3 linked regions of the Homo sapiens genome follow. The protein of the gene in region 2 interacts with the protein of the main gene of each other region in a pairwise test. Each region holds a gene or a part of one and is shown on either strand. Other genes may lie near its edges.

Region 1 (7,173 bases), on a different chromosome or scaffold from region 2:
ACGACAGTGTCTGAGATACTGTGTGATTGTGTATGCGTGTGAATGTCTTTGTGGGAGAGGCTGTAATCAGGGATCGTGGGTGTGTGAAAAAGTGGCTTGAGTGAGAAAGGGGTAGGAGAGGTGATTTTTGTGCATGTGTGGGAAACTTCATGAGAGACTAGTTAGTGGTGACTATAAATCAGTGACTATTTGTGTATGTGAGAAAGTAACAGGCCAAATGAGTGCCTAAACGTTTCATGAGATTGTGTGACTGCACGTGTATGTAAGGAACTGACTGGTGAGAGAAACTATTGGCAATATTGACTGAATGAGACAGGCTGTTAAACATGATTGTGTGTGTGAAACTGTTAGGAGACTGTAGTAAGGCTGGAATCCATGACACAGAAAATGACTATGAGTGACAGAATGTCTGAGAGGCTGTGTGATTAAGAGAATATAGTAGAGGCTGTAAATCCGGACTGGGTGCGGTGGCTCATGCTTGTAATCCCAGCACTTTGGGAGGCCAAGGTGGGAGGATCACTTGAGGCCAGGAGCTTGAGACCAGCCTGGGCCACATGGTGAGACCCCGTCACTACTAAAAATTTAAAAAATTAGCATAACGTAGTGTTGTGCACCTGTAATCCCAGCTACATGGGAGGCTGATGTGGGAGGACTACTTGAGGCCAGGATTTTGAGTTTGAGACCAACCTGGGCAACATAGAAGGACCCTGCCGCTACCAAAACAAAAAACAAAATTACCCAGGTATAGTGGTGCATGCCTGTAGTCCCAGCTACTGAGGACACTGAGTTGGGAGGATCGCTTCAGCCCAGGAGTTTGAGTTTGAGACCAGCCTGGGCAATGTGGCAAAACCCTGTCTCTCCAAATAGTTTAAAAAATTAGCCAGGTGTGGCGTGTGCCTGTAGTCCCAGTTACTCGGGAGGCTGAGGTGGGAGGATGGTTTGAGCCCAGGAGGTTGAGGCTGTAGTCTGCGATCACGCCACTGCACTCCAGCCTGGGTAACAGAACCAGACCCTGTCTCGAAAAGAAAAGAAAGAAAAGAAAAACATAACTGTGTAGATAGGTTTAAAAAAAAAAAGAGAGAGAGAGAAAATAACAGACCAAATGAGACTGTGTGAGAGGTCTAATGCCCTGCAGACCCTCGAATGTTCCAGGCCCTGGAGAAAAACCCTCTTCTGTTTTTCCTGTTCCTCCACAGGCCCCTCCTGCTCAGTCCGCTGGGCTGGCTTCTCCTACTTCTCTAAAACTTGAAATGCTGGGGTTCCCCAGGGCAAAGCCCTGGGATTCCCTTCTCTCTTCTCACGCATCCTCTCTAGGTCATCTTATCCAGGTCTTCACACTTGAAATACTACTTATCCTCCATGGGATGCCCACATTTTTACCTCTAACTCAGACTGTCCTTCTGGCATTTTATCGTAATCTCTAAAGTTTTGTTTATTTCATTGATTGATTCATTTAGCAGATGTTTATTGAGCATCCACTGTTTCCTGGTGCCTATCTAATGCCCTGCAGACCCAGCAGTTAACAAGCCAGACAAAAATCCCTGCCCTTGTGGAACTGATATTTAGGGAGTGAGAATAACAAGAAGCAGGCAAATACATAGTAGCAGGTAGGGATGTAATAATTAAATAAGACAAGACTCTCACTCTTTGTTTAAGGAATCTGCAGTCATTTTATTGCCTAAACGTGTGGGAAAAGATAGAGTGCTGACAGTCCTCTTCCACAGGGAATCCTATGAGTATTTATACAGTTTAGAAACAAAGGAAATATTGTTAATATTATTACCAGGGCAACAGGTGGTTAAATAAAGAAGCCAGCCAGAATTTCAGGTTTCTTTCTTTTTTTTTTTTTTTTTTTTTGGGACAGAGTCTCACTCTGTCGCCCAGGCTGGAGTGCAGTGGCACGATCTCAGCTCACTAGAGCCTCTGCCTCCCGAGTTCAAGCGATTCTCCTGCCTCAGCCTCCCAAGTAGCTGGGATTACAGGCATCCGCCACCACGCCTGGCTAATTTTTGTATTTTTAGTAGAGACGGCGTTTCACCATGTTGACCAGGCTGGTCTCGAACTCCTGACGTCAGGTGATCCACCTGCCTCAATCTCCCAAAGTGTTGGGATTACAGGCGTGAGCCACCATGCCTGGCCAGTTTCAGGTCTCTTGGAGAGTGTTTTCACAGGATAACACAGCAATGATTGTCTTGAAGTCGTAGAATCTTAATAAGACTCCTTTGTTCAAAGCACATTTTCAAGGATAGCCTTATGTTATCAGAGAACAGAGTATGTCTGTAATGGATACAGATATTAACACATACTTTACTGCCCATAAAACAAGTGTTCCTGAAGAACTTCTGTTTTAACAGCTGACCAAATTATTACATTTGAATTTGCAGAATTCCTCTGCCTCCCTGAGAGCAGAGGAAATTAGGCATTGCCTTCCTATCTTTCTTGTGCTTCTTTTTGTTAATTAAAAGCAAAATAAAAATTTTAAAGTGGGCCCTGGAGTTTCATTAGGGTTTATAAAAAAAAAATAAAAAAATAAAAAAAAAAGAAGGGCTGGTGTGATGGCTCATGCCTGTAATCCCAGCACTTTGGGAGGCTGAGGTTGGGAGAAAATATTGAAGCCAGGAGTTTGAGACCAGCCTGGGCAACACAACGAGACCCCATCTATACAGAAAATAAAAACATTAGTTGTGTGGTGGTGTGTGCCTGTAGTCCCAGCTACTTGGGGACGCTAAGGTGGGAAAATCACTTGAGCCCAGGAGTTTGAGGCTGCAATGAGCTATGATCAGACCACTGCACTCCAGCCCAGGTGACAGCAAGACTCTGTCTCTTTAAAACAAAACAAACAAAAAAACAGGTTTGGAAGCTACTGGGCTAGAGAGTGACAGGGATGCCAGACAAGGGTATGGGGAAGGCCTCTGTGAGGAGGGGCAACATTTGTTATCCATCTTCTCGAGGGCCAGGATTTTTGTCTGTCCTATTCTCTGCTCTAATGCTAAGAACCGCATCTGGCATCCAGTAGGTGCTCAATAAATGTTGAATAAATTTATCAAACACAGAGCACCTACTATATGCCAGGCACTGTTCTAAAGACTTTCCAAAAGCTTAACTCCTGGCCGGGCACGGTGACTCACGCCTGTAATCCTAGCACTTTGGGAGGCCAAGGCAGGTGGATAACCTGAGGTCAGGAGTTCGAGACCAGCCTGGCCAACATGGTGAAACCCTGTCTCCACTAAAAATACAAAAATTAGCTGGACATGGTGGTACACGGCTGTAATCCCAGCTACTCAGGAGGCTGAGGCAGGAGAATTGGTTGAAATCGGGAGGCAGAGGTTGCAGTGAGCCGAGATCGTGACACTGCACGCCAGCCTGGGCGACGGAGTGAGACTCCATCTCGACAAAACAAACAAAAGCTTAACTCGCAATCTTTGCAACACACCCTACCTATGTTGTAGGTGCTGTCTGTGAGCACATTTTACAGAGGGGAAACAGGCTCCAGAAGGGGGGTGTTATCTGCCTGAGGGTTCTCTGATGGAATATGGCCCAGCTTATTCCCTCCTAATCACCCCAGACCCTGGTGTTGTCCCCAGCTGGGCCCATGGAACAATGGATAGACCCCATTCCCCTCCTGAATCCCTCCCCAGGCTCCTGCCACTTCCCTTTCTCACTTCCCTTGTGCTGACCTCCCCGACCACAAGCTGACCACAGGGAACCTCTCAGGAAAGGAGGGCCGAGGTTAAGGGAGGGTGGAAGGTGGAGCAACTGACTCGATGCTCCCTCCACCCCCACGAGCAGGAACATACTGAGCACCGCACACTCACTTCACCCTGGTTCAACACCCCCACGAGGTTGACCCCGTCATTATGTTAGAGATTATGCATTTTCCACATAGGGAAACTGAGGCTCAGGGGTGTTAAGTGACTCACCCAAGGTCACACGGCTAGGAAGTTGCTGCACGCTCCTATGCTCCATTTCCTCTGGGTGAGAATTTGTCCTAGGAGCTTCTATTGAACACTGTGAGGTTGCTGGGAGGAGCGCGAGGTGCTGGGGATATAGTAACAAACAGAACAAGACCAAGAGTAAGACAGGAAATGGGGAGGGGAGAGTAGAGAAGGAGGCAGAGGGGACAGGGTGGGGTCAAAGCAGGATGCCCTCCCAGTTCCTCCTGCCTCTAGGTTCCTCTTTCCCTGCTGATTCCAGGAGCCTATCAACCCAGATAAAGCGGGACCTCCTCTCTGGTAGAGGTGCAGGGGGCAGTACTCAACATGATCACAGAGGGAGCGCAGGCCCCTCGATTGTTGCTGCCGCCGCTGCTCCTGCTGCTCACCCTGCCAGCCACAGGTGAGGGGGTGAGGGCCCAGCTGGCCCCAGGGGTGTCCAGGCCCACCACATCCCTGACCGAGCCCCACCCACCCATCCCCTGGCCCTGTTACAGGCTCAGACCCCGTGCTCTGCTTCACCCAGTATGAAGAATCCTCCGGCAAGTGCAAGGGCCTCCTGGGGGGTGGTGTCAGCGTGGAAGACTGCTGTCTCAACACTGCCTTTGCCTACCAGAAACGTAGTGGTGGGCTCTGTCAGCCTTGCAGGTTAGGGGGAGCCTGGGGTGGGGGATGGGGGGGAGGGAAGGACTGTCTGTGGGGGTCACCCAAAACTGGGCACTTTCTTTCTCTGGGACTTCCAAGGGTGGCCCTGAGGCCCTGATCGTGACCATACCTCAGGGTTTCTCAACCTTGTTACTATTGACATTTGGGGCTGGAAATTCTTGGCTGGGGGAGGGGATTGCTTACCTGTGTATTGTGGGATGTTTTGTAACACCCCTAGCCTTCCACTAGATGCCAGTAGCAATTCTCCCCACCAGCTGTGACAACCAAACATGTCAGCAGACATTGCCAAATGTCCCCTGGGGGTCAAAATCACCCCTGATTGAGAACCACTGACATAGCTCACACATATTGAGCACCTCCTGCACACTGGAAGCATTGCAGGTGGGGTGCAGCTTGGTATTTCCCTAATTTTGATGACAGCTCATGTTTATTGAGTGCTTACTGTATATGGACACACTGTGGGGGCGGGAAAGTTTGGGGAATTCAAAGGGCAGCTCTAGGCCCCTAATTATGATGACACTTCACATTCATTGAGCACTCCCTGTATACCAGCTGCATGGCAGGGTTGGGAGATGAGCTTGAGGATTTCTGAGGGTAGCTCTAGTCTCCTGATCATGATTTCCAGCTTGCATGGATTGAGCCCTTACCGTATGCCAGACCTGTTTTCTACTTGTTTACTATATATCCCAGATACACCGTGGGCATGGGGAGCTTGGGGATTTTTGAGGGCAGCTCTGGGCCCCAAGTCATGTCAACAGTTCATCACATCTATTTGGCATGAACAGCATACCTAGGGCTATGCAGTGGGTTGGGGATAGATCTGGGGTTATTTCTGAGGAGGCCTCTGAGGTCATAGGGATGATGGCTCAGGTTTATTAAGCACTTTCTATTTACCTACTACCGTGTAGTGTGGTGATCTGGTGGGTTTCTGACAGCAGCCCTTGGTTTCTAGTCCTTACCTTTGCTTACTGCGGACCTGGTGTTGGCCATGCAGCCTTCCAATGGTAACTCCAGATGCCTGATTGTGAAGGTAAATGACATTATCAAGCACTTATTGTATATCCACTGCTTCCCATCAGTATCCCAATATCCCTAAAAGGTAAGGACTTATCAATCCATCGCACACGCACTTGCCTAGCAACCCTTCGTGTCTGCCCACACTCTGGAGTCCCACATGCCATTCTTGTTAGCTCATGCCAGGATGGGATGTGTGTGCTCTTCTCCACAGGTCCCCACGATGGTCCCTGTGGTCCACATGGGCCCCCTGTTCGGTGACGTGCTCTGAGGGCTCCCAGCTGCGGTACCGGCGCTGTGTGGGCTGGAATGGGCAGTGCTCTGGAAAGGTGGCACCTGGGACCCTGGAGTGGCAGCTCCAGGCCTGTGAGGACCAGCAGTGCTGTCCTGGTGAGGAGGATGAGCAAGGCGGGCAAGCACTCCCTGTCACCCAGCACTGGTGGGAACGATCGGTACAGAGGTCCTCAGAGTGGGCCCGTCCCCAGTGTTTGTAAGGACCTAAGGAGGAGAGTGGTGGGAGGTGAGGTCAGAGAGGTGAGGAGGGTCCATTGCCTGGGGGCCACAGAGAGGACGTTGGCTTTTCATCTGAGTAATTTGGACTGTGGGCAGAGGAGGAACGTGATCTGACTGGGGTTGGGAGGAGAACAGACTGTGCACGGTGAGGGTGAGAGGGGAAGCGGAGGCACCCATGTGAAGGTTGCTGCGGCAGGCCCGGTGAGCGGGGATGGTGGGCCCAGAATGGTGGCAGAGGATATAAGGACAGGATTAGCTCATGTGGGGCACTCAAGGAAGCAAAGAGCCCTGAATGACACCCCACCTCCATCCCATTACCCTCTCTTCTCTCCCACAGAGATGGGCGGCTGGTCTGGCTGGGGGCCCTGGGAGCCTTGCTCTGTCACCTGCTCCAAAGGGACCCGGACCCGCAGGCGAGCCTGTAATCACCCTGCTCCCAAGTGTGGGGGCCACTGCCCAGGACAGGCACAGGAATCAGAGGCCTGTGACACCCAGCAGGTCTGCCCCAGTGAGTGAGGGAAGCCACAGGATGCTGATGGGTGCACCCAGCGTGGGTCTGCGGGGTTACAGCAGGGAACTGCCAGGCTGAGAGGACTTTAGCATGCATGACCACACCTGCATCCCTCCACCTCCCACCCCACCACAGCACACGGGGCCTGGGCCACCTGGGGCCCCTGGACCCCCTGCTCAGCCTCCTGCCACGGTGGACCCCACGAACCTAAGGAGACACGAAGCCGCAAGTGTTCTGCACCTGAGCCCTCCCAGAAACCTCCTGGGAAGCCCTGCCCGGGGCTAGCCTACGAGCAGCGGAGGTGCACCGGCCTGCCACCCTGCCCAGGTACACCAGGATGAGGCTGCTGATGTTGCTGGTGGGGCTCTTGATTGAGGGCAGAGATGCTCTGCCATTTCTAGAGTTCCTAGGCCATGTGACCATGCAGCCCTTCATTTGGGGACAGTCTGCTTCAAGGGTCTAGGGGCTGAGAGGAAGGATTGAGGAGGCCTTTCTCCTCACTCCCTTTCCTCCTCCAACAGTGGCTGGGGGCTGGGG
Region 2 (7,098 bases):
GGCTGGATGCCTGGCCTGTGCTGAGGTTCAGTGTCGTTTTCCTGATCTTACAGAGAGGGAGGTTAAGTAACTTGGGCAGGGTCATAAACCCACAAATGGCAGAGTCGGGATTCGAACCCATGTCTCTGATTCCAGAGTTCCTCACCTTAAACCACATCTGGCTGCCTTTGTCGTGCTTTGCTCCTGTTGCATGCTGCAAAGCCAAGTAGGTTAAGACAGGCTAGGTTCCTGCAGGGCTGGGTTGCCCGAGACCTGGGAGAGGTCTTCCAGAAGGCACTGCTGGCCTTCCTCGCCCAGGGCCAGAGCTACTGGAGAGAAAGGGCTGCTGTTCACATTTTTTCTTTTCTTTAAGTGCCCCAGATACTTTTCATAAGGGAAGTGTCAAAACAATTGTCAAAAGGAGAAGAATATTTCCTTCCTCTTCTCAGGCTAGACCAAGCAAGGGAGTTGGAGGGTGGAGAGTGGAGGGACCTGGTGAATCATCCAAGATTAAATACGGGCAGGCACTGCCAGGCTTGTGTGGAGATGAGGCTGGGACACTGTTCGCAGGAAGAGTCCGGTGTTCTGGCCCCCTGATGTCACCTTCACGGGCCTGACTCACAGTCCTAAATATCTGACAGCGAGATCGCTTGTAGGTAGGCTTCTTGTCACTTGTCATTTAAGTCCCCTGCCTGCCTTTTTTCCCTGCTCATTTCCATTTCGATCACGGCTTCTACTACATGTGCTTGAAATGAATGTTGTGTGTGAGGACCTGTGTGGTTTGGGCCATGTTGTGCCCCCCTGCCAGTGTCCTTCGGTGTTGAAAGGAAAAGGTATTTCTCTCCCTTCCATGTATGTTCTGCAAATTGACGAACATTTGCAAATTGCTTTGAGATGCGTTAATTTAAGGTGTGAAATAATAGATCTTGTGCGAAGGCTCAGCCACATTTCTGGCATTGATGGATTTTTCTCCCGTCTGGCCTGTGATTTGGGGAGGTAAAAATAGTCCTTTTTTCCACATTTTTATCTTTTTTTTTTTTTGCTGACATCATTCTTAGGAAGTGGTGTGCACATGCCGTGGAACTTTACATGGAACATGGAGCTCTGGGGAGCAGGAGTGCTCTTGGAGTGAGGGGTGGTCTGCGGTGGCCCAGGCACCCCCTGGCTGTCCGTGAAATGGCTTTGAAATGAGCAGGCACTGTTGAGGGCCTCAGTGGCTTTTTGGTATTTGGCTGTCTTTTCACTTATGACTCTTGGGTAATGGCAAGATAACTTTTGGGGAAAATGTTAGTTTAAAAAGAAAAAAAATCAGGCCAGCACTTTCACTCATTCCTGTCTGAGCTGGTCCCTTCCTTTGGCCAAAGCTGAACTAAACCAATGGCCTTCTCAGACTCGACTTCCAGACAGAGGAGCCGACATTGGGGCAAATCAGTTGGTGGTGTAATTTCCTGTGATGTTAACTTTGGGAACTTGAACTTGGAGTGGGAGCTAGCATTTTGACATGTGTCCCTCTAACAGGACTTGCTTGTGTGGAAACAGACCCCCACATACATGGCTGCGCCATTGTCTCCAATTCTGGATTTTTCCACAGATGACTTCTCGGGTGATCTGGTGGTAAAGGCACAGGTCTTCTAGCCAGGCCTTCTTGGCCTCCAGCAAGGGCAGGATCACAGCACCCCACCAGACCTGACTGGCCACCACCGCTGTAGCTGTGGCTGGGCGAGTGGGGGGGCCATGGGAATTGAAAGATGGGGTGGCCGAGATCTGAAATGCATTCAGTTGCAGTGGCCTGGATCTGCACGGAGCCGTTCTTTCTTTCTCTTAGACATCTGCATGGTGGTGACCTCATAGAATTCTAAGAAAAAAGGGGCTTTATGTAGGAATTCCATAGAGTGTGAAGGAATTTGGACAGGGGAAGGGGGAGGGAAGTTGCCATTCAGAGCCTGCAGTGCCTGCATTTTCCCCGAATTGTTTAACCCTCATGCTTCAGAATTAGGCTGAGGCTTGCGGGGTGGGTCATGTTGACCTGGGTGAACAGAGATCCCTTTAAGAAGAACTTCTCCATGTTCCAGAGGCGCGTTCTTACTGCAGGTGAGTGGCAGTATGGGAATTAGTCCACAGGCCCCTTCTCGAATGCCTGCCCTCTCTTGTTCCTTGTCCTCAACGTCTTTGAAACTTGGGCTTGTTGGGAAGACACCTGCAAAAGGATGGATGCACATGACCTTCAGCTCTAATGAATCAAGCTGCTGATGAGGAATTCACTGGGCTCCCAATCCAGAGAGCTTCGCACACACCCACTGGGGTTGAGACGAGCACTGGGTTTATTTATTGTGGACTTTTGGAGTCTGAAGGACTCTTGCCACCCATCTGTTTCACGGAACAGAACCTGAGGCTCAGAGGGAGCAAGGCGCTCCCCCACAGCCGCATTGAGAGCCTGAGCCTGGGCACCCGATGGAGTGAATGAGGCTGGAGTCCCAGACCTGCCTCTCATGAGCACGTCGCCCACTGAGCCTCAGCGTCATCATCTGGAAAACAGGGATAATATTATGACCTCAGAAGCTTCGGGGGAGGAAGTAAGTGAAATAATGCATTTCAGATGCTCAGCGCCTTTTAAGTGCTTGATGCTCATTCCCCAAGATTACATGAGAGACATGGAAAATCTTTAATGACCAAGGACCCACCCAGGGTCACTCAGCCGGGACCCTTGGTCCGTGGCCCAGAGTGTCTCCAGTGCCCCTGCATTGAGGCCCTAAACAAGGCCAGAAGCAGGTGCCGGGGACCCCTCTGGATTCCACCAGAGCACCTTCCTAGGATCATGGCTCCCAAAACGGAAGGGAAGGAGACAGCGCAGTTTGCAAAGAGGCAGGATTTAAGCACCAGGGTGGCCCTGTGGCGCCTCAGGAAAATGTTTGCCTGTCAGTATCTGCTCTCGTTCCCACCTGTCCCCACAAAGCGAGGCCATAAGTCCTCGGCGTGGCATTGGAGGGTCTCTGAAGGCCCTGAGAGCTGTGTCAGCCACGGTGTGTTATGAAGCAAGGCAGATGTTTTGTTAATTATTTACACAGCGTCGGCCCCGCAGAGGACTGCGCTGACAGGAGCGGCTGTCACAGGCCTGGCCGTGGGGCAGAAGTGAGCAGCCGTCTTCCCCTGGCAGTCCTCCTGAAAAGGTCTGCATGGCAAGGCCTGAGGGAGTCCTGCACATTTTATGCCCCCGCCCCCCAAAGCCATTTGGGTTTCCCTTAAACTGGCTTGTTTTCCTGAGCCGGTGGAGAGATCCTTGTCCTCCGGAAGTGGCTATCGCTCTGGGGCGGCTTCTCTGCCAGCTCGTCACACCCTAGACCCAGCTGTAGTCTGTGTGGTGGGAGAGGGTGTCACCAGGCTCTGGAGGTCCACTCCTCTGTAGTCACCTCATGCAAGGAGGGCTTCACAGGGGCCCAGCCTCTACTCCCTCATCCGGAAAACGGGCCAGTAACACCAGGCACCAGCCCCGTGATCCTCAGGCACCCTTGGGGGTGATCTGCCTTAGAAATTCAACTTTAGGATTAGAATTCTGCTAAGAGGTACCATGTGACAAAAAAGGTAGTGTAAAAATCACAAAGACCAGGACAGGCTCATGCCTATAATCCCAGCACTTTGAGAGGCCGAGGCGGGCAGATCACTTGAGGTCAGGAGTTTGAGACCAGCCCAGCCAACATGGCAAAACCCCATCGCTACTAAAAATACGAAAAATTAGCTGGGCGTGGTGGTGGACACCTTTAATCCCAGCTACTCGGGAGCCTGAGGAGCCTGAGGCGTGAGAATCACTTGAACCTGGGAGACAGAGGCTGCAGTGAGCTGAGATTGTGCCACTGCACTCCAGCCTAGGCAACAGAGCGAGACTCTGTATCAAAAAAAAAAAAAAAAAAAAAAAAAGAGTTCTGCAAAGAATGGCACCTGGCATCAGAGCTTTCCCTGAAAGGCCACTAAGGATGAGGAACGTGAGCTCCGGGGAGGCGAAGGGGGCAAAGCCACCTGCCTGTTGCCTGTTTTACATAAGGAGGTTTTGCATAGGAGTCATTTTAAGATACATGAAGTAGCCAGAATAGATAAATCCACATAGACCTAAAGCAGATTGGTGGTTTCCAGGGCCTTTGGGGAGGGGAGACTGGGGAGCGACTGATTAAGGGACATGGGTTTTTATTGGGGTGACGCAGACGTTTTGGAACCGGATGAAGGTGGTGGTTGCACAACATTGTGATTGTAATACATCCCATCCAGCGGTTTGCTTTAAAGTGGTTAAATATATCTGAGAAAAATGTTAAACATAAAAGTTTTGGCCAGGCACGGTGGCTCACGCCTGTAATCCCAGCACTTTGGGAGGCCGAGGCAGGCGGATCACGAGCTCAGGAGTTTGAGACCAGCCTGACCAATATGGTGAAACCCCATCTCTACTAAAAATACAAAAATTAGCTGGGCGTGGTGGCGTGTGCCTGTAATCCCAGCTACTCAGGAGGCTGAGGCAGGAGAATCACTTGAACCCAGGAGGCGGAGGTTGCAGTGAGCCGAGATGGCGCCACTGCACTCCAGCTTGGGCAATAGAGTGAGACTCCGTCTCAAAAAAAAAAAGACAAGTTTGTCTTGCTTTAAAAAAAAAAATACCTCTCCTTTTACAGATGGCGACACTGAGGCCCAGAGAGACATCATGACCAGCCTCAGGTCCCACATGCAGCCTGCTGCTCTGTAGCCTAAATCAGATCACTGTCCCAGCTTTCAGGTCAAGGCTCTGGTTGTGACACCTGGGCCTGGACTGCGGGTGAAAAGTTTTGATGCAAAAACACAGACCGTCCATTGTCCTATGGGCTAAGTGGACTCCCTTCTGCTAACCAGAGATGCTTGTGCTGGCTGGTGTGTGGCACGTTATCTCATTCTTTCATGACGTATGTCCGGATGGAAGTCCTGGGTCAGGCATTGTGCTGGGAGCCCACACGAAGACCCTCTAATGGCCCCACCCATTGGCCTCTCACCACCTGGTGGGGACAGAGGCTGTCACAACCCCTTCTTAGGTGCTCTTGATCAATTTGCAGGTGGCATTTTTTGGGATGTAGTCTCTGGGGAAGTAGGAGAGCTTCCGGCAGTGAGGGGTGTTTGAACCCACCTGGAGGGAGACGTGGGGTTTGCCAGAGGGCTGAGAGGGCTGGGGTGAAGGGCAGGTAGACCCCAAGGTGGAGAGGCAGGTGGGGCCGGTGGGTGAGAGGTGGGGCTGTGGAACTTCCTCCTGCTTCTTTGGCCTTTGCTCCTGTCGGTAGATGGCCTTACCAGGCACTTACTGTGGGCCATGTTCTAATCTAACCCTTAACCTGAGGGAACTCACTTCATCCTCCCAGTGATGCCGTGATGTGGGTATCGTTCTGCCCATTTTATAGATGAGGAAACAGAGACCCAGAGAGTCCAGGATCTGTGGTGCTTGACGAGCATCAGCCTGAGTGCTGTGAGGACACCCACAGCATGGGGGTCTGAGCTGAAAATTGGAGGACAGAGGCTGCCCTCCGGAAGTGACCAGGATGTGCCCTCAGGAAGTGACCAGCTGCCCAGCTCAGGACCTGTGTGAGGGCCCCCAGGCAGCTGGAAGGAACAGTGTGCACCCAGGTACCATGCCAGGGCCCCTGAGCATCCGTCTTGTCATCGCATAGTTGTAACCTGCCTCACAGACTGAACATGCACTCTAGAAGGGGATGGGACTTGGTCTGTGGACCACAACAGTGTTCTCCATGGCCAGCATTGTGCCTGACACATAGGAGGAGCTCAATTAATATTTGTTGAGTGAATGGGAAGTTTTAAGTAGGCACGCGGCCGGATCCTTGGAGAATGTTTATATGGAGTGAACGAATCTGTTAGCAAACGTTCCTCACTCCCCTCAGTGGGCTGTGCAGGGCTGTATTGAGCTGAGCTGGCCCTTCCCTGGGAGAAGAGGTTTCTTAGAGAAATGCTCATCCTCGAATTATTCCAATGAGGAGGAACCTAAGCCCAGAAGGGCTCTACCTCCCAGAGTTACAGGCTCTCCTTCCTATGCCCCTTCCCTGCCGAGGCAGCTCCCACATGTCTGCATAGGAGGGCTTTGGGTTGGAATGGGTCAGTGCTGTGTCTTAAAGCTGCATTTTCTACCAAGCACACACTTTGTTTAGAGGGCATATCTTTTGGGGTTGCTTTGAGGAAAGGCTAACCAAGCCACCTCTGAGCACAGACATGACTTTTTGGCAAATGAGCAGGACCCCAGATTACACCCCATCTTAGAAAGTAGGAAACCCAGCATTGAAAGAGGAAAGATTCTGCAGCTGATGTGGCCTTGGCGGGCCACCAGCGTGGGTGCCCAGATGGCAGGATCACTGGGCACCACATGGCACACAGAAGAGAGCAAAGGAGAGGGAGTCCGCCCCTGGGCTTGGCAGGTCCGGTCGAGTCCGCCTGGATTCAGTTACAACAGGACCTCGAGTGGGCACGGCGTGCCGGACTGAGTCAGTGTGTGTACATTTCCTTTGTTCGTCTCCTCCGGGAATGTAGTGGCCTTTTGTGTGTGTTTTAAATGCCAGCCTCCTTACCTAACCCAAGAGGAAATGAGGACTGGGTTTTTGTCTGTGCAGACGCTGGGACAAGTGTGGGAGCCGCCTGCTCTTGGAGCCAGCCTAGTGGTGACAGCGTGGCATTTGGAAAACATTCTGTGGTTTTCTCCAAGGGGTGATGGGCACACCAGGTGCTGGGCCGCCCCTGAGCTGGCCACTGGGACCCTGAAATGAGGAAGCCCTGTGACCAGGTTTCATGATGCCATTCAGCAAGGGACGGCTGAGCACCACATGCCTTCTTGGCCCCTGGGGAAACACACAGGAATCAGATGAGGTCCCTGCCCCGTCTTCCTGGGGAAACATGCAGAGAAAATACTTGTACTCTGAGCTAACACCTTTCACTCGCACAGACCTTTATGGTGTTCTGTGTCTTCAGACATTGATCACCTGTAGGTGAGACACATCATGGCCCCACTTTCCAAACTCCCAAACGGGCTGTGATCTGTAGAAGTATTTAGTGCCATTCAGGGACAGGAGAGATGGTTTGGAAGATGCTGTCTGCTGTGCGAAGTCTCTGGATGCT
Region 3 (7,167 bases), on a different chromosome or scaffold from region 2:
CAGTCAGTAGTGCTGAGACCTCTCAGATGGCCTACATATAGCCTTTTAAAAAACCTAATTCAAGAATTATAAAATATTAGATAAAGATACCCAGGAAATCTGGAAGGCTCTTCCCGGGCTAGGAATAATAGAAGGGGCTCTCTCGTGTTTTTCCCTCTCCCTCTTGCAAGTCTTGGCTCATTTTAAATTCATTTCTCATTTTCTGATTTCCTCTTACAATAAATACAGAGGGAGAAAAGGATCAGGTGAAGGCTCATTTATCTTAGCGTCTAGGTCATGTGAAGTGTTGAACACTCAGCTGTTGAAGCACTGCCAGTGTCCAATCAAGGTTTTTGTAGGGCTATTGCAGCCCAGCTCTGGGCTGTGTTCCTTTCAGAGAATTCAGAATTCAGATGAAGCTAGGACAAGATTGCAAACAATACAAAACAATAAAACCACTACTTCATTCCTCTGGGCAATCTGTGTCTTTTAAGGATCTGTCCCTTGAGCTGGATAATATCTCCTCTTTGAAGGCTATCCTGCTCTGCACCCTCCCTTCTAGTCCACTCCCGTCTCCCAAGACAGTCAACTACTATACTCTTTTCTGTGCTGACACTGGGACCTTATAAATAATAACAGCTGTCTTGGGGACCTTTATTTTTGGCAGCCTGTGCATGGTCTCTTTTGCTACATAGCTATGATTATTGTTCCCATATTATAGGCAGGGAAACAGAGGCTAAGAGAAACTAAATAACTGATGTAGGCACAAAGGAAGTAAGCTATGGAATATTAGACTTGAATCTAGGTCTGCCTTCTCAATCTAGGCTTTAAGCTTTTCCTCCTCACAATGTTCCAGAATTCCCCCTGCTGCTTTGGCCATCCTAGCTTTTTATTTATTTTTTATTTTTCTTAGAGTCAGGGTGTCACTTTGTTGCCCAGGTTGGTCTCAACCTCATGAGCTCAAGTGATCCTCCCACCTGGGCCTCCCAAAGTGCTGGGATTACAGGCGTTAGCCACCATGCCCGGCCTGCTTTATTCTTTCTTTCTTTCTTTTTTTCTTTTTTTTTTTTTTGAGGAGAGATACTCCTCCACTTTTTTAAATCTATATATTTAAGGTACACAACATGATGTTATGGGATAGTCAAAAAGTCACTATAGTGAAGCAAATTAACAGAGCCATCATCTCACACAGTTATCCATTTTTTTTGTTTATTGTGGCAAGAGAAGCTAAAATCTACTCATTTAGTATGAATCCCATATGTAATAAATTTTATTGCCCCTCCACCTTTTAATACCCTGGGACTCATACTTCTTTCCTTCCCAAAGGCTGCTGATCCCCACCTTCCCACCTCATTCTGGCAGCTATCCACCTCTGTTCTCTCTCCAGCCCTATCCCATATTAGCTCAGGATGAGCACTTCAGGGAAGTGCCTTAGAATTCCAGACAAGTGAGAGAAGCGGAGCTGCCCAACACTTGTAAGAGGTGGTGCTAAACAGGAGTTCAAGACAAGTCTGAGCAACATAGTGAGATCCCATTTCTATAAAGTTAAAAAATTTTTATAAAGGAAGAAAACCCCAAAAGCTCCAGACTTGGAGCTAAGTCTAGTTTCTCTCTCTTTTTTTTTTTTTAAAGACAGGGTCTCACTCTGTTACCCAGGCTGGAGTGCAGTGGCGCAGTCACAACTCACTGCAGCCTTGACCTCTTGGGCCCAATCCTCCCATCTCAGCCTCCCACATAGCTGGGACCAAGGATGCACACCACCCTGCCGGCTAATTTTTTTATTTTTGTAGAGACAGTCTCCTTATGTTGCCCAGGCTAGTCTTGAACTCTTGTGCTCACGCAATCTTCCGCCTCTGCCTAAGTGTTGGGAGACCATAGACAGACTGTACGTTATTTATTTTTTAGAGATGGGGGCTTGCTGTGTTGCCCGGGCTGCACTTGAACTCCTGGGCTCAAGTGATCCTATCCTCCTGCCTCAGCCTCCTTAATAACTGGGATTACAGTCAAGCGCCACTGTGCCCGGCTGAGACTGCATCTTATTTATCTTACTCATTGCTACTATCTAGTTCAAGCCATCATTCTGTACCTGGGTAATGGAGCCTCTGGCTTCCACCATTGTCCTCTTAGTTCTGCTCTTAGCACGGCGGCCAGAGTGATCTTTTGAAAGCACGAGTCAGATCCTATCACTCCTCTGTTCAAAGCCCAGCAGTGGTTCTGTTTCAGCCAAGATTCCTACAGCTCCCTACTTGAGACCCCTCTCTCTGATCTTATCTCCTCATTAGGCTCCCATTTGCTCACGGCTCCAACCGTCCTGGCCTTCTCATTATTTTTAACACTTCCCGAGGCTTTTGTCTCCAGGCCTTTCCACCAGCTAGCTGTTCCTTCTGCCTGGGACACTCTTCCCCAGACAACTGCATGGCTGACTCCCTCAGCTCTTTCAGGTCTCCGATTTAAAGTCATTTTATAAATGAGGCCCATGCTGACGGCTCTATTTAAAATTGCAGGCCAGGCGCGGTGGCTCAGGCCTGTAATGCCAGCACTTTGGGAGGCCGAAGAGCGCGGATCACTTTTGAGTTCGGGAGTTTGAGACCAGCCTGGCCAACATGGTGAAACCCCATCTCTACTAAAAATACAAAAATTAGCCGGGTGTGGTAGCGCGCGCCTGTAATCCCAGCTACTTAGGAGGCTGAGGCAGGAGAATCACTTGAACCCGGGAGTTGCAGTGAGCTGAGATCGCGCCACTGCACTCCAGCCTGGGCGGGAGAGCAGGATTCCCTCTTAAAAAAAAATTGCAAACCCCCTTCCTCCAGTTTTCCTCATACCCCTTACCCTGGTGTATTTTTTTTTCCCCATATGCCTTCTAACATATTACATAATTCTCTTACATTTATCATCTTTCTCCTTATATTAGAATGAAAGCTCCAACAGGGAAGGGTATTTGTTTTCTCTCTCTCTTCTGTTTACTGATACATCCCAAGCACTAAAATAGTGTCTGGCAACCTTAGTAGTGATTGGCAAATATTTGTTGAGTGAATGAGTACATGAATCTTCAGAATCTTGCTAGTCTTATAAAGAAAAGGAATATGTGAATACTTTGAATCTCCAGTGCCTAGAAATGCTTGACCAAACGGCAGGTGTTCAATGTTTACTGAAGGAATTGTGTGCTCAGATCTGCTGGAGGTCTTTATCTGAACCCTTTGAGACTATGTCAAAAAAGTACCCAGGGCCAATTCACTCATGCCTCTCCTTTTCCTCTCATCCAATCAGCCTAGTATTCATCTAACAAATATCTAAGTCTCCAAATATTGAGCCACCCATTGTGAGTTCAAAAGCGTGTTTGGCGCTGCAGGGGAATATGTGACTAACGCGAATGAAGCAACAGCAAATACTACACTGGAATGTAATTAAGTGTGAAATTATAGGGCAGATTATCAGTGCTAATAGTTTAGAGAAAGAATCAGTGAAGACTGACGTAGAAGTAAATTCCAAAGTTCACTCGTCGACCAAACTACCCTTCTAAACGCTCCACCTACTGATAGTAGTACCATAACCTGGGTAGCTACCTTGAGAATTAGAAGGGCCTTTAGAGGTCCAACTCCTTTAAGAAAGAAAGAAAGACCAGGCACGGGAAAGGCCTCCGCAGACATGAGTCTAGCACCTGGGACTCATGAAGTTCTGAAAAGAGGGGTGTCCTGAAGGTCCAAGGCGCCTTTGTTGGGGGTCCCGGAATCCGCGGTGTGCCAGGTCGGAAAAGGCGTCCGCTTTCCTGGAGAGGAGGCTAAGGTGCCGGGCGCTTCGGTGAGGTGGCGGATGTTGGGGGGCGGGGGAGGGCAGAAGGCACCATTCCTTCGGGGCATGGGGCCCCAGGTATCCGTGGGCAGGGTCCAAAGCCACCGATCCCTACTGTCCTCAACTGCGGGGTTGCCTCCGCCGCCTTTGCTCCCAGACGCCACTCCGAGGCACAAGGACCCCAAGTCGCTCGGAACTGCCGGCCGCTAGATGACACCGGCTGCGCCGATGCAGAGCCTCGGGAGTCTCAGGGCACTACTTGTCCCAGCGGAGGGATCCTGCGTGCGTCGAAGCGACCGTGACCGCGCAGGGACTTGACGCCGCTGACGCCGGGCCGGCGGCGCAGCGACGCCGCAGGAGGCGGTGGCGGCGAGGGCGGGCGGGGGATGCGGGTCGGGAAGTAGTTCCGGGTGCGCGGCCCCGGATGTTGGCTGCTCTTGCTGCCGCCGCCGCTCTCGGGGCTGCTCGGGGCCTCGACCGCTCGCAGTAGGCACCGTTGGGACCTTTCCCGGGGGGGCGGAGACGCACGGAGCGGCCGGGGGCTCGGCCGGGCCGTCCCGGCCTGCGCAGCCTGAGGTAAGTGCCCCCCGCCAGGGCGGCCGGGCCTGGGCGGCGGGCGAGGAGGCGGGGCTGTGGCATCTCCCGGGACGGAGGCAGGGGCTGTCCTCCGCGAGACGCCCTCTCTCTTCCAGCCGCAGCCGCGTTGCGGGGTGGGCGGCGGGTGGGGCAGGGGGCCTGGGCCCCGGCTGGGGCCTGGCGGACGCCGAGGGCTGGGTCCTTCCCTCCCCCGCGGCGCTTCTCAGCTGCTGCTGCCCCTCAGCTGGGAAGCAGCGGCTTCGCGTCTCCCGCCCCTCCCCCAGGCGGGGCACCGGGGAACCAGACGTGGATCCCGGGGGCGCCTAGTCCGAGGGCAGCGACCGTCTCCTTCCCTCCATGACCTGTCCCTTGGCCTGGGCTAGCCCCCGACCCCGGCACTCTGCGGCTTCTTCCCTTTAAGCTTGGGGGCGCTTTTCTGCCGGCAGGGCGGGCTGTACCTCACGCCTTGGAGTGGCCCTTTGGGGAGAGGAGGCCCATGCGAGGGTGCTTGCGTTCCCGCCCATCCTGTGTCTGTGTCCTTTGCTGGGATTAGGGCAAAGGCAGCCGTTCCATGCGGACGTGTTGCTGTCCTGTGTGTGTTGCATCCTGCCCACGTGGTAGAGTGTCTCCCGCCCCCCCTCCCAGCTCCATTTTTGCAGCTGGTGAGGAGGGAGGTTAACGGGATGGTTTTTCCTCTGTGATTTCCTCCGGGTGGCGTGGAAGGTGTTAGGGTCAGTTTGCTTTGCCGAGGCCGGCTGTTGGTTAGATGAAGAATCGAGAGTTGTACTCTGAAATTGAGGCCAGTAGGGGACATAACAGGGCTTAGTTTCATTAACATCTTTTTTCCTCTTCCATTAGCTGCTCTTATTCTTTTCTCTGTTGCTTAATTATAGAGAATAAGCGCTTGCTACCGATGCATTCAGGTGTATAGTTTTCATTTCTCTGTTTTACTTTTTGTGTGTCTGGTTAGCAAAGGTTTTACTATTCCGTGTTGGTGCATTCCACGTCTGTGTTGTCCCTGGTTGGATTCCTGAATGAGTTAGAGCCATTCACTCTAATTCCTGAAGGAGTTAGAGATTGGTGGGCACCTTTTTGGTCTTTTTCTGAGATTTATTTGTGTGTGTTTTCTTCCTTCTATTTTGTTTCCCAGTGAAAAAGCGTGATGTCATAGGAGCGTTATATGCATAGCTCTTTTTCTCACAAGGCAGCACTAGTTTCACCTAGTCACTTATTTTGTAGAAGCTCTTTTACTTCACTTTTCCTCTTACTCTGTTGAGTACCCATTGCACACTCTTTTTTTGAAACTGGTTTGAAACATGGTTTGAGTAGTTTTTTTCTTAATGTCTCTTCCAGATTAGGGTTTCCATCTTCTGTTTTGCTGTTTTGAGACCACAGATTGTTCCCGCAATAACAGTGAGAGAAGCCTATTCCTCCTGGTCCCTAGCAAATATTTATAGAAAAGCAGTAACTCCTCTCTTTTTCTGAGTGGTATATATTATATAGACGTGATTAAGTTTTTTAGTTTCTTAGATAAATAGGAGGATTTCTCTTTTTGCTTTTGTGTCTCAGAATTGAGGTGAATCTTCTTGGTTTTGTGCTGCCGAGGACAAAACTGGGAAGTTTCTCATGCTTTCATTAGATTTTTTTTGGATGAGGCTAGAACGTGTTTATTTTGGCTCTTTTTTGTTCATTAGTTTGGGTAAAATAAAAAAACTTAATGTTTCAAAGTCACTTACTAGATTCCAAAGTGGCCTGCATTCTCACTTTTTCACATTGTACATTCTTTGAGTATATTTTTGACATTTTTTTCCTTTTATCTGGTACAGTTCGTATATTCCCTTTCCTTCTATGTAGAATGAAAATATTTAAATATAGATTTTAGATTATATTTTTTCATTATGCTAAGTATGGGTGGGGCAGTGGAAAATGGAGAATGTTGTTCTGATACATACTGAGGCTTTTTGTTTTTTTTTGGTAAGTCAGCATTTGTGTACTTCTGTAAAGTACCGAGTTATCTATGTGTGAAGTCTGTATGAAGAGACGAATAAGATACGTGGTCTCTTGGAAAGCTTCAACTTATATCGAAAGAACAGAGTTTCTTTTTCTGTTCGGGAAACATGTACATCATTCAGAATTATCAAACTGCATCAAACTTCTCCTTGGGATAACAGTACAACCAAGGTCAAAAGTGTAAGGGACATTTGAGAAAGATACAAATTTCCAAAGGGAAAGAGGTGTATTTCAGGAGAGTGAAGGGGCCTGTGCAAAGCGAGAGAAGTGGCAATGTACAAATGATATCAAGGAGCTTGACTGTCAGATCATCTGTGTTGGTGAATAATAATAAATGAGTTTAGGATTGGTGAGGGGGTATTGATGGAGGATCTTTCAAGGATAGAGGGTTTAGTTTGATAGGGTACCACAATGGGTTCTAAAGAATGAGAGTAAGATGATGCATCTTGTTCCTGAGGAAGGTTTTTGTTTCAGCTGAGTGTCCTGGGAGTGGAGAGACTGATTAGAGTGCTTATGGAGAATTTTAGGAATAAGCTGATGAGGGTCTGATATAAGATAGTGGTTGTAGGAATAAAATAATAGCTAACATTTACTTACTGTATGACAGGTATTCTAAGCGCCTACGTTTGTTTAATTCATTAAATCTTCATAATAAGGTATTAAAATCAGAAGGGACTTTGGGCAAGTTGCTTAACCTTATGCATGTAATTATTCCCATATACAATGAACGGTTAGATGAAAGGTAGATTTTGCACTGACCAGGGATATAGATGCTAGTAAAACACATCAGTAGATGTGTGTTGGGAGGGTAGT

What was found. The genes of interacting proteins can lie anywhere in the genome.
Region 1: the proteins of NEK6 (region 2) and CFP interact in binary tests that used the Homo sapiens proteins (3 or more experiments, as listed by UniProt).
Region 3: the proteins of NEK6 (region 2) and FOXJ3 interact in binary tests that used the Homo sapiens proteins (3 or more experiments, as listed by UniProt).

The regions. Positions count from the first base shown.
Region 1 is NC_000023.11:47,626,931-47,634,103, reverse strand, and holds the start of CFP (properdin precursor), read left to right. Parts: upstream 1-4,173; 5' UTR 4,174-4,259; coding exon 4,260-4,335; intron 4,336-4,429; coding exon 4,430-4,580; intron 4,581-5,826; coding exon 5,827-6,002; intron 6,003-6,462; coding exon 6,463-6,633; intron 6,634-6,771; coding exon 6,772-6,963; intron 6,964-7,157; coding exon 7,158-7,173. UniProt on the Homo sapiens protein: A positive regulator of the alternate pathway (AP) of complement. It binds to and stabilizes the C3- and C5-convertase enzyme complexes. Inhibits CFI-CFH mediated degradation of Complement C3 beta chain (C3b).
Region 2 is NC_000009.12:124,260,949-124,268,046, forward strand, and holds part of NEK6 (serine/threonine-protein kinase Nek6), read left to right. Parts: intron 1-145; exon of another isoform or gene 146-220; intron 221-519; exon of another isoform or gene 520-635; intron 636-1,967; exon of another isoform or gene 1,968-1,997; coding exon of another isoform or gene 1,998-2,070; intron 2,071-2,076; exon of another isoform or gene 2,077-2,552; intron 2,553-7,098. UniProt on the Homo sapiens protein: Protein kinase which plays an important role in mitotic cell cycle progression. Required for chromosome segregation at metaphase-anaphase transition, robust mitotic spindle formation and cytokinesis.
Region 3 is NC_000001.11:42,332,236-42,339,402, reverse strand, and holds the start of FOXJ3 (forkhead box protein J3), read left to right. Parts: upstream 1-4,167; 5' UTR 4,168-4,344; intron 4,345-4,447; exon of another isoform or gene 4,448-7,167.